Regions from separate parts of the Homo sapiens genome. Here all the other regions are linked to region 1. Evidence: fine-mapped QTL for protein levels in blood plasma. A gene starts in region 1. Each other region holds a variant in brackets. All regions are shown on one strand. Distances are from middle to middle.

Region 1 (4,245 bases):
GATGTCCTCTATTTCAGGGGTTCCCAACCCTTGGGCCGCGCACCTGTCCATGGCCTGTTAGGGACCCGGCTGTACAGCAGGAGGTGAACTCCGGGCTAGCTACCAGTACCGCCTGAGCTCCGCCTCCTGTGAGATCAGTGGTGGCATTAGAATCTCACAGGAGCGCGAACCCTATTGGGAACTGCGCATGCCAGGGATCTAAACTGCACTCCTTATGAGAATCTAAGTGATGCCTGATGATCTGAGGTGGAACAGTTTCATCCCGAAACCATCCCCCAACTCTTCCCCCCGCCCCCGCGGTCCGTGGAAAAACTGTCTTCCACGAAACCGGTCCCTAGTGCCAAAAATGTTGGGGACCACTGCTCCATTCCACACCCTCTCCCTCCCGTGTCTGTGGACGTGTAAGCGGAAGAGCCGAGATTGGGAGGGAAGCGCAGGAAGTGAGGACATCAGGGAGCCCGGGCCTAAGCCTGGAGGCCCGCCCTCTCCGGCGTTCACAGTTGCGCAGTCAGAATTGTGTGCGTCCCACCGCCTCAGCCCCCAGTTCTCCGACGCCCAGGTGCCGGTCCCCACCCTACACACAAACACACGCATCCACGCTCGCGAGGCCCCTGGGTCCGCGCCCAGTGAGGCCAACAGCCCTCGGGCGCCCAGAGGATGAGCAGCCTCGGTATGCCCGAGTTTCAGGGGCGCCTGCTCTGCTTGGGAGCCCCTCAGTGAGGCAGGGGAATCCAGATTTAGAAAGGTTGTCCTCAGAACCTCGGACGCAGGACTGTCTTACAAGCTGGCTTTGTGACTCTGCAGTAATTACTTTCCGGGTATAAAGAGATTTCTTTCTTTCCCGTCTCTGGTTAAGGATGTCTCGAGTAGGGATTTTTAGGAGAGTTGTTTCCGTGCTTCCTTCGATAGCTCAGCTGGTAGAGCGGAGGACTGTAGTACTTAATGTGTGGTCATCCTTAGGTCGCTGGTTCGATTCCGGCTCGAAGGAGACGCTGCTGTTTTGGGGTTTACGGTTGCTCTTCGTTTGTGCAAAAAATCTCTGTATCTTGACGTGATCAAATCTGTTTCTGTCTCTCACCCTTGTCCGAAGGAAACAGCTTAGCCGCGAGGTGGGCTGCGTTAATCGCGTCTTGAAAAGTTGGTTACCTTTCTGAAAGATAGTAGACCCGAATCGTCCCACCGTTGGGGGAAGGCACTGTTGTCTTACCGAAGTGTGTTATATTTTGGCTTCTACGTTAAGTCCAAAGGCCGGCAGATATATACGTATCGCGCGTCTGTCCTGGGGCTCAGTACCCTACAGCCTTGCAACCGAGCTCAGCTCTGGCCCTCGATCTCTATTTCAGCCCCCTCCAGGTTCCCTCCAGGCCCTAGCGGGCTTAAATCGCTCCCCGGGCTCAGTGAGACACAAGCATGTGACCTAAAGTCTAAAAAGCTGCCTTCCTTCACCCCATCCTGCATCTGGATCGAGGAGAATAAGCCAGAGAATAAGCCACACTTGAAACTTGGTGAAGATGGAAGGAATAACTAAATAAGGCCTAAGGGAAATGTCACAACAGAGGAAAAGAAACAAAACAAAAAACCTTCAGAACAGCAGGCGGAAAAGAGAAATTCAGAGTGATAGGAAGCACCACTCAGCTACAGTGGCTCGTTGGTCTAGGGGTATGATTCTCGCTTTGGGTGCGAGAGGTCCCGGGTTCAAATCCCGGACGAGCCCTCGTGGCTACTGTTTTTCCACCCCCTTTTGTCAACTACTGAAAAAAAGTCTCCGTTAAATTTGAAACACAAACTGTCTCGCGATGGGCTGTCCTGCCAAAGAAAGCAGCAGCGAATAAGTACGTGGCAGATGGTGCTGTCGACCAGTGTCAAGACCAAGTTTCATGGGTTCCTGGACGCTCAGCCAGGGGTAGTCTCTGAAGGGCCGCCTGGCAATTGGGAGCAGAAGCCAGTTTCCCGCCATCTGCTCTCCGTGGAGGCAGTGCTCTCGCGGCTGCTGCCCGTTGGGGTCCAGCTGAGGAAGGAGCGCGGATCCCAGGCTCGTTCTTTGCCTGGGCTGCCCCTGCGGCCCCTGGGGCGGGTGCTGCTGCGGCGCCAGCTCCAAGGGCGGATCCAGGCGGGAGGGGCCTCCTCGGAGAAGCGGGGCGCGGTCCCAACTACGCAGAGGCTGGCACGCCGACCCTCCACACCTCACCACGCCCCCATCTCCGTCCGTGTACACACACTCACACAAGGACGCCAACCCCACCTAGATGCAAAGCAGGATTCAAAAGAACATCTTTGCGTTTTCTACCGGCTCCCCATCATCGTACTAGGGAGGAAGAAGCGGGTGAGAAACAAAACTTCTTTCCATTGTCCTGCCCGTTTCTGCGGACTTGTTCTGAGGCCGAGGTAGGTTCACACTCCTGCTCCTCCTCCTCCTCTCTGGTAGCTTCATAAGGGGCGTTTAGGCCGGGGAGTCCTTTCCTAGTAGAGGCAGCTTGGGACTCCTTGGGGAGGAGTTTGCGGGACGGGGCTGGAGAGGGAGGAATGGGGAGGGACGTGAAAGTCCCGTATTTGTATGAGTTAACGACTTTACATTCCCACTCAGGTTTACTTTGCGCAGCTGGGCACAGATGCCAGCTTCTATTGATTAGTAGGCTTGGAGGGGGACCACAGAATCGCCGAACCTAAGGGAAGCCCTAGGAGGCCTGCACTTGCCCACAACTAAGAAAGCTTTGCTAGTTATTCAGGCTAATCACCAGCTTTTTGAAGCAGGCCTTAGTTTTTTGCAAGCGTAACTAACATTTGGGGATCGGTGTTTTCTGTTTACTCTCCTCTGCCTCCTCACCCTTAACCCACCCTCAGCCAGTGTTGTGCAATTCTTAGAGACACTTGCCAACAGCCTCTTCTCTAAGCCTTCCTACTGGAAGGTTGGGATCCTCCGTTTTCTCGCTCTGAGACAGCACGTCAAATGCTAATAGCAGCACATGAGTAAAGCGCAACATCTTTATTAAAACAATTTCAGCACCACTCAGGGGGCTAGGGAAATCTCAGATGAGCCAAGACCCTCCCTCGTGACAGTAAAAATCTTATAATCAAGTCATAATGTAATCAGTAGAAACCCAAGGGACATCATTATCTGTGGCACAGGACCACCTTCCCAGAAGCAGCCTCAGGTATTCAAGACTTACTTAACCACAGAGCCACTAACAAGTTTTGCAAGAGGATAGGTTTATTACATACGCTTCAATTCAAGCAATTCTTTTACTGATGACAAGCAGAGTAAAATAATTTTTGAATTTATGGTAATAGTCAATGTAGGTTTCCTTCGAACAGCAACTTTCAGTGGCCCCTTTAAAGTTAGCTCTGATTGTCTAGAAAGTACTAGTATGGAATATAAAAGTTGTGTGGGCCCGGCACGGTGGCTCATGCCTGTAATCCCAGCACTTTGGGAGGCCGAGGTGGGTGCATCACAAGATCAGGAGTTCGAGACCAGCCTGGCCAAGATGGTGAAACCTCGTCTCTACTAAAAATACAAAAATTAGCCGGGCACGGTGGTGAGCACCTGTAACCCCAGCTACTCGGGAGGCTGAGACAGGAGACTCTCTTGAACCTGGGAGGCGGAGGTTACAGTGAACAGAGATTGCGTCACTGCACTCTAGCCTGGGTGACAGAGCAAGACTCCGTCTTAAAAAAAAAAAAAAAAAAAATTGTGTGGTGCATTGGAAAGCTTCCAGGCCGGCGAATGCAATGAGTTCCTTGGGCAATACATGTCTCTTTCTCTGTTCCTCAGTTGGCTCTTCTTTAATATGAGGGGTGGACAGAGTCTCAGAGGCCCCTCCCACTCTTGTTCTATGACTCCATGGAGTGGTACGATGTTAGTAACAGGACATGAGGCACTCTAGTAATGTGGAGATGAACTATCGTTTGGCAGAGAGGATGGAAAAAATCATTCCAGGAAAAGAGGAATGGCTTTAGCTATTGTTGAAAACAGATAATCAGGTTATAAGCAGGCAAGAGTAAGAGGTTTGTCAAGTTATTGTTGGAAGCATTGGTCACTGTGACTCAAATTAAAGTAGCTGGATAAAAAAGTGGACCAATGAAGGTCAGTGAAACCTTTCTTTAGGAGTTTTTATTGAATCTGTATTTAAGCAGATTCTCTGTAATTCTCTGTAAACAGTTATTCCCGGAAGAATGCCATGAAATACTTGGGAAAGAGGGAATGGGAACAAAGAGTGAGTGGGCACAAAGCCCAGAGTTGGTTGAAAA
Region 2 (4,245 bases), 15 kb after region 1:
GCGTTGCTCACTTCCTATTGAATCAGGGATGATTTTTCTTTGCTGTAGTGAATCAGCCCTGCTACACTGCAAGAATCAAGCCGATTCACAATTCACATCAATTCCAGGAGTGACGGCCAGATGGCAGCATCTGGCTAGTCAGTTGGTGAGTGAGTCCACCTCCAGTCTTGATTAAACTCTGCTGCTGGGAAGTAGCAATTCTGAGCATAAATGTCTTTGATATCCTGAATATTTTGGGTGTGGGATGAGAGAGGCAGTAGATAGTGGAAAGAGCACAGGGTGTAGACTAAGATAGGCCTGGATTCCTTTCTTTAATCTGTCAATGAAAGCAATGAATGTTCTGAAACTACATGGCAATGCTTTTTTTGTTGCCACTCTGGCTTTTTTTTTTAATGCTATAAAATATATGCCTATTTTTCACTGCCAAGAGGTGACAACACAATGATGCTGCAACCAGAGAAGACAGACAGCTACCAACAACTATTGACAAGACAGAAGGAACATCAAGAATAGATGCAAGACAAAGCAATGTATCTCCATGGCCTAGATTTTTTAGGTTATGCATAGAAACAGCAAGGAGAAGAAGACACAATCCAAGTTTTCTTTTGAGAATATTGTGCTGTTTAAATTTATTTTTTAAACATTTCTTAGCTTTTCTTATTAGTCAATTTCATAAGCCTGGGAAACATCTTTACTCTATCCATTTAATTGCATTTGTTCATTAGCTTACTCATTTCACTTATTAGTTCATTCAAACAGTAGCTATTATCAACTGTCTTCTAAGAACTGTAACTGGGTATTCTGGTTTTGCTTTTTTTTAAAAAATAGAATTAAAAGGATTTCCAAAAGGACCTGATTTTACATTAGAATTAGAATAATACATTTTAAATTAATGTATAACATATATTATTCTAGAATTAGAATAGATTTTAAATCACATTAGAATAATAGCCACATGACAAAAAAGAAAAGAAAAATAATAAAATTAATGACAAAGAAAAACAATAGTCATGTGAGAGGAAAGGCAAAGCCTAAATATTCCTCTGTCCTCTTCCTCCACCTAGATTCCCAGATGTAAGGTATTAAAAGTAGTTTGTAAACTTTCTGTGACGTATGCTGAGTCTATCCAAACTGTCGGGAATTGGAGCCTCCCGGGAACCAAACACTCCCCAAAGATCATACACCTACGGAGTTCCCCCAAGAGACACACAACTGCAGTTTCATGTAGGTTCACCTTTTCTCTCTTTTTATACTCTGTCCACACAAACCTGGCAGCCACGCAGTCAGTCCCTGCCCTGTGTCATTGTACTGGCCACAGCAACTTCTCTCTGTAAATGAGAAAGGTCTTGCTTTCAGAAAAGATCATGTTTGCAAACTACTCACTCTTGAGGAAGAAGGGTGGGAAAAGTAGCAGAGATGAGTGGGGAGATGGTGCATATAAGAAGGAGGAAAGAGGAGACTATGGAGTCAGGATGCCGGCTTGCTATTCTCAACACCTTTTTCCAGTGCCCAGTTCTTACCTTATTTCTCCTGCCCCTTGCTTTCTTTTCTAGGCACCTCTAAGATACTGATGGCTCTGCAGAGGACCCATTCATTGCTTCTGCTTTTGCTGCTGACCCTGCTGGGGCTGGGGCTGGTCCAGCCCTCCTATGGCCAGGATGGCATGTACCAGCGATTCCTG[C/T]GGCAACACGTGCACCCTGAGGAGACAGGTGGCAGTGATCGCTACTGCAACTTGATGATGCAAAGACGGAAGATGACTTTGTATCACTGCAAGCGCTTCAACACCTTCATCCATGAAGATATCTGGAACATTCGTAGTATCTGCAGCACCACCAATATCCAATGCAAGAACGGCAAGATGAACTGCCATGAGGGTGTAGTGAAGGTCACAGATTGCAGGGACACAGGAAGTTCCAGGGCACCCAACTGCAGATATCGGGCCATAGCGAGCACTAGACGTGTTGTCATTGCCTGTGAGGGTAACCCACAGGTGCCTGTGCACTTTGACGGTTAGATGCCACCATGTAGGGATTATCGCGAGTGGTTGACCTTACACTTACTCCTTAAATAGCAGTGAGTAATGCATTTGAGCTGTCCCAGGCTCTGTCTCCTCAGCTCATTTCCTACTCTTTTTCTCTATATAACTCATTCTATTAAATACATTGCACCAAAGAGATATGGAGACATAAACCTGTAATGAATGAGGCTGGGCTTTTCTGTAATAAGCTTCCTTTTATAATACTGGTCAGCTTAGCTCTCTCAGATCCTATCCTGTGGAATTTAGTTATTATGTGTATTTATGTAGTATTTCAAACATTTCAAAATGCTTTCATCTATGTTTATCACATTTTAATACCACAGCACTTATAATGATGTCACTACATATAGAAGCTCAAAGTTAAGGGATTTGCTGAAGACTGTAAAGTTAATGGAAGAATTGAGACAAAAATCCAGTGTAGCTGGCCACTTATCCAGGGCTTTTTCTACTTCATCACAAGGAATGTTTTGAAAGTGTCTGCTTTTTTTATCCTTAAAATTCACCTGTCAGGGAGGCATTAAAAATTTGGAAATGTATGCCAGCAAAATGTGAGCTCTGTATTTTTTGGCATTCTTATGTTTGGGTTTAATAAGATTAAGAAAATGATACTGGGAATTTTCTTTTTCCTGAAACTTTGAATCACCCTAGTAAGTCAAAGTACTAAAAAATGTACTAGATCATTAAGACTTATGTGCTCTTACTGATTGAAAGATTTTTTATGTTTTCCTTGTAATAAAGGACCTAAACCGAAGGTACCTGAGAAGACTGTGCTATGGTATTATTTTTTTTCTCTGACTTTTAAATTCTTGTTTAGTTTATAAACATGCATGCACCTTAATAACCTCATAAACTCTGGTCAAAGACTAATGCCTATCAGATCCATGACCACAACACAGAAGATTTGTCTCATTTACTCCAGAGAGAATGATTCCTCTCAAAGACAATTCTCACAGCTCTTCCTTCTCCCTTAGAATATTTAGAAGCAAATTAGGGAGCTGTCAGGTCTCTGAGCCCAAGCCTGCACGTATACATCCAGATGGCCTGAAGCAACTGAAGAACCACAAAAGAAGTGAAAATAACCAATTCCTGCCTTAACTGATGACATTCCACCACTGTGATTTGTTCCTGCCCCACCTTAACTGATCAATTAGCCTTGTGACATTCCTTCTCCTGGACAATTAGACTCAGGAGCTCCCCACCAGAGCACCTTGTGACCCCCGCCCCTGCCCGCTAGAGAATAACCCACTTTGACCGTAATTTCCCACTACCAACCCAAATCCTATAAAACTGCCCCACCCCATCTCCCTTTGCTGACTCCTTTTTTGGACTCAGTCTGCCTGCACCCAGGTGATTAAAAAGCTTTATTGCTCACACAAAGCCTGTTTGGTGGTCTCTTCACATGGACGCGTGTGGCATTTAGTGCCGAAGACCCAGAACAGGGGGACTCCTTCAGGAGACTGGTCCCCTGTCCTCGCCTTCACTCCATGAGGAGGTCCACCTATGACCTCAGGTCCTCAGACCAACCAGCCCAAGGAACATCTCACCCATTTCAAATTGGGTAAGCGGTCTTTTCACTGTCTTCTCCAGCCTCTCTTGCTACCCTTCAATCTCCCTGTCCTTCCAATTCCAGTTCTCTTTCCTCTCTAGTAGAGACAAAGGAGACGCATTTTATCCATGGACCCAAAACTCAGACACCAGTCACGGACTCGGGAAGATAGTCTTCCCTTGGCGTCTGATCATTGTGGGGATGCCTGCCCTGATCATTCACCCACATTCCATTGGTGTCTGATCACTGTGGGGACACCTGCCATGGTCATTCACCCACATTCCCTTGATGGCAAGTCAATCGCGGGATGCCTGCTTTGGCTGATCGTCCACGTTATAGCCCAGGGCTGCTCACCACCCCCTTTGCTGTGTCTCTACCTTTCTCTTTAAACTTACTTCTTCACTGTGGGCAACCTTCCACCCTGCATTCCCCCTTCTTCTCCCTTAGCCTGTGTTCTCAAGAACTTAAAACCTCTTCAACTCACACCTGACCTAAAACCTAAATGCCTTATTTTCTTCTGCAATACCGTTTGGCCCTAATACAAACCCAACAATGGTTCCAAATGGCCAGAAAACGGCACTTTTGATTTCTCCATCTTACAAGATCTAGATGATTTTTGTCGAAAAATGGGGAAATAGTCTGAGGTGCCTGACATCCAGGC
Region 3 (2,924 bases), 11 kb after region 1:
TGATCTTTCCCCCATTTTCTCTACTTGGCTGCTCCCTGAGAGGACTGCATAGGATAGAAATGCCTTTTTCTTTTCTTTTCGTTTTTTTTTTTTTTTTTTTTGAGATGGAGTCTCACTCTGTCGCCCAGGCTTAAGTGCAATGGCACAATCTCGGCTCACTGCAACCTCTCTCTCCTGGGTTCAAGTGATTCTCCTGCCTCAGCCTCCCAAATAGCTGAGATTACAGGCATGCACCACCACACCTGGCTAATTTTTGTGTTTTTAGTAGAGACAGGGTTTCACCGTTTTGGCCAGGTTGGTCTTGAACTCCTGACCTCGGGAGATCCGCCCACCTTGGCCTCTCAAAGTGCTGGGATTACAGGCATGAGCCACTGAGCCGGGCCACTTTTTCCTTATCAGTCAGTTTTTACAAGTCATTAGGGAGGTAGACTTTACCTCTCTGTGAAGGAAAGTATGGTATGTTGATCTACAGAGAGAGATGGAAAAATTCCAGGGCTCGTAGCTACTAAGCAGAATTTCCAAGATAGGCAAATTGTTTTTTCTGTCAAATAATAAGCTAATATTACTTCTACAAATATGAGACCTTGGAGAGAAGTTTCCAAGGACCAAGTACCAACATACCAACAGATTATTATAGTTTCTCTCACTCTTACACACACACACACACATATACACATATGTAATCCAGCATGAATACCAAAATTCATTCAGGGTAGCCACCTTTTGTCTTAAGCGAGAGATAATTTTGATGTTTGAATGGAATGCTCCCAGGATATTCTCTTGTCATGGTTATTTTATATAAAATTCAAAAACCAATTACATTATTTCCTCTGTAATCTTTTACTTTATCAACTAATGTCTGGCAAGTGTGATGTTTTGGGGAAGTTATAGAAGATTCCGGCCAGGCGCTGTGGCTCACGCCTGTAATCCAGCACTTTGGGAAGCTGAGGCGGACAGATCACGAGGTCAAGAGATCAAGACCATCCTGGACAACATGGTGAAACCTTGTCTCTACTAAAAATGTGAAAATTAGCTGGGCGTGGTGGCACACACCTATAGTCCCAGCTACTCGGGAGGCTGAGGCAGGAGAATCGCTTGAACCTAGGAGGC[G/A]GAGGTTGCACTGAGCCGAGATCACGCCACTGCACTCCAGCCTGGGCGACAGAGCGAGACTCCATCTCAAAAAAAAAAAAAAAAGAAAGATCCCAGTTTATCCCAGTTTATCCCTTATTCTTCCTCAATTCTCAAGATTTGTTTTTAAGTTAACATAACTTAGGTTAACACACTCTTTGTAAAATACACTGTTCAATCTACAGACTCAGTGGTTAGCTTCCTGTTAACTAATTTCTGTTGACAGGTACTTGGATATTTTATTTAGAAAGTGGTTGCCAATAAATTAGTTATAAGTCGCCAGTTTCACTGCCTTGTGAACACATAATTATTGTGGTCTCAGTATTCCCTATGGTGGCTTCTCCTGCTCCTGGTATTGCCCTGAAATGGGCCAAAAGCCGTGGCTCCCCAATACTCAGGTTATAGAACATTGTCCAGGTACCACCTAGGAGAGCCCAGCCTCACTGAAAGTATTCAAATTTAGGAATGGGTTTGAGAAGTAGGTAGCTGGTATGTGCTTAGCACAAGAATCTCTCTTCCTTGGGTTAGTCTGTTTCAAAACTGAAAACACTGTCATTCCTTAAGAAAATAGGAAAAAGTATTCCAAACCTCTGTCACTAGAAAATTTGCCATATTACCAAATCTCAAAAACCTCTCAGGAAATGAGAAAGTCCCAGTTTCTGGTAAACTATTTGGGCCCTTTTCTCAAGTTCTCCAACCAGTGCTATTTCCTTGAGGTGAGGCAAAGTTACTCAAGATCATCGCTGCCACTCAAGGCCTTGATAGGGCAAGTGAAAGGCATGGACCATTATTATATTGATCACAGCATAAGCTGTGAAAACCCACATCTTCTCCAAACATCTGCTTGGAGCATTATCATCGCATAGTTTGCTCTGGTGTTCAGGGAAATCGCTGTTTCATAGGAAATCACATGGCAGTGGGATGGGAGTGTTTCCTGACCTGCCGATGGTACTGGCACCTGAGCAAGCATTCCTAGTCCTTTTTGGTCTGGGCCTCTTGTTCTATCACAACCACAAGCTGTTTAAAATAAAACGTCAAGTCACAGGCAGGTCATTTTATCCTGCGTGAATCAATTGAAGAATTGAAGTCCTGGTCAGCTGTGATTGTTGGCTTTGCAAGGAAAAAGAAGGAACACTCCAAAATGCTAAATGCTTTGAAGAATAGTGACATGCAAGGAAGAAAATTCCATGCAATTTGGAGAAGAAACATTTTTCTAGGAATCTAGTAGCTGAGATATTTTATAGTTTAAAAACAGACTTCCAATATCTTGAGAATACAGTTAGCTCTACGAAATAAAGAGGAGTCAATAATATATGCAACTCTGTAGTCATTCATTATTTTATCCAGATTGACAGAAGCAGAGGAAACCAAGAAAAATGGAAGTGGTAAAAAAAAAAAAATGCAGTAATTGCCAATATTTACTGAGCATTTACCCTGTGCTAGGCCTTGTTATAGGCGCTTAGATTGATTTTCTTTTCATAACATCCCTAAGAGGTAGGTATTACATGCTCATTTTGCTTATGAGGAAATCTGCTGAGAGAGATTAAGTAATTTTCTCATGGTCACAGCCTCAGTCTTTTAGACCACGGTGTCAAAAGAAGTTCTTACTGTGAGTCAGGGTGGTGCAGTGGAGAAAGCGTTTGGGGAAAATCCTGACCCAAAAGTGTGCGTTGGGATGATGTGGAGATCATTCAATTTTCTCTTGTAGCTACAGCTTTGAGATGCACCCATTGGTATCCACACTGGCCTGCTGTCCTCAAATATTTCTCTATGTCTTGTTTACTTGAGTAGTGCAG

Alleles and levels. Alleles are on the strand shown, and positions count from the first base shown. The strength of an association depends on the size of the effect and on how common the allele is.
For the plasma level of the protein whose gene starts at base 2,187 in region 1, allele T in region 2 goes with a lower level than allele C (strong association).
In carriers of allele G in region 3, the plasma level of the protein whose gene starts at base 2,187 in region 1 tends to be lower than with A alone (moderate association).

The links. PIP is the chance, under the fine-mapping model, that this variant and not a neighbour inherited with it causes the effect. The UK Biobank Pharma Proteomics Project read protein levels with antibody pairs (Olink). The fine-mapping took linkage between variants from a reference panel, not from the people measured, so its PIPs are less certain.
Region 2: its variant is fine-mapped to the plasma level of the RNASE4 protein (UK Biobank, PIP above 0.99). The variant lies in the coding sequence of RNASE4. If it changes the protein, the assay may bind it differently, which can mimic a change of level.
Region 3: its variant is fine-mapped to the plasma level of the RNASE4 protein (UK Biobank, PIP above 0.99).

What each region holds. Positions count from the first base shown.
Region 1 is chr14:20,682,374-20,686,618 of GRCh38, forward strand. It overlaps RNASE4 (ribonuclease A family member 4), which reads left to right and starts at 2,187. Exons shown (of 2, transcript NM_002937.5): 1 at 2,187-2,385. It overlaps TRY-GTA5-5 (tRNA-Tyr (anticodon GTA) 5-5), which reads left to right and starts at 900; the gene lies at 900-988. TRP-TGG3-2 (tRNA-Pro (anticodon TGG) 3-2) reads left to right here and starts at 1,643; the gene lies at 1,643-1,714. It also overlaps a transcript of ANG not described here. RefSeq lists enhancers at 569-878, 1,079-1,268, 1,409-1,538, 2,339-2,478 and silencers at 1,669-1,718, 1,989-2,108.
Region 2 is chr14:20,697,802-20,702,046 of GRCh38, forward strand. It overlaps RNASE4 (ribonuclease A family member 4), which reads left to right. Exons shown (of 2, transcript NM_002937.5): 2 at 1,554-3,415. The coding sequence starts at 1,571. The coding sequence ends at 2,014. It overlaps EGILA (EGFR interacting lncRNA), which reads right to left. Exons shown (of 4, transcript NR_174964.1): 2 at 1,521-1,697; 3 at 1,235-1,328. Among named protein-coding and RNA genes, the nearest start is that of EGILA, 7.0 kb to the right of the region's middle. RefSeq lists a silencer at 1,850-2,015. The variant C/T (reference allele first, on the strand shown) is at 1,682.
Region 3 is chr14:20,694,217-20,697,140 of GRCh38, forward strand. The region is part of intron 1 of RNASE4 (ribonuclease A family member 4); the gene reads left to right. All of the region lies in intron 3 of EGILA (EGFR interacting lncRNA), which reads right to left. Among named protein-coding and RNA genes, the nearest start is that of ANG, 6.9 kb to the left of the region's middle. The variant G/A (reference allele first, on the strand shown) is at 1,111.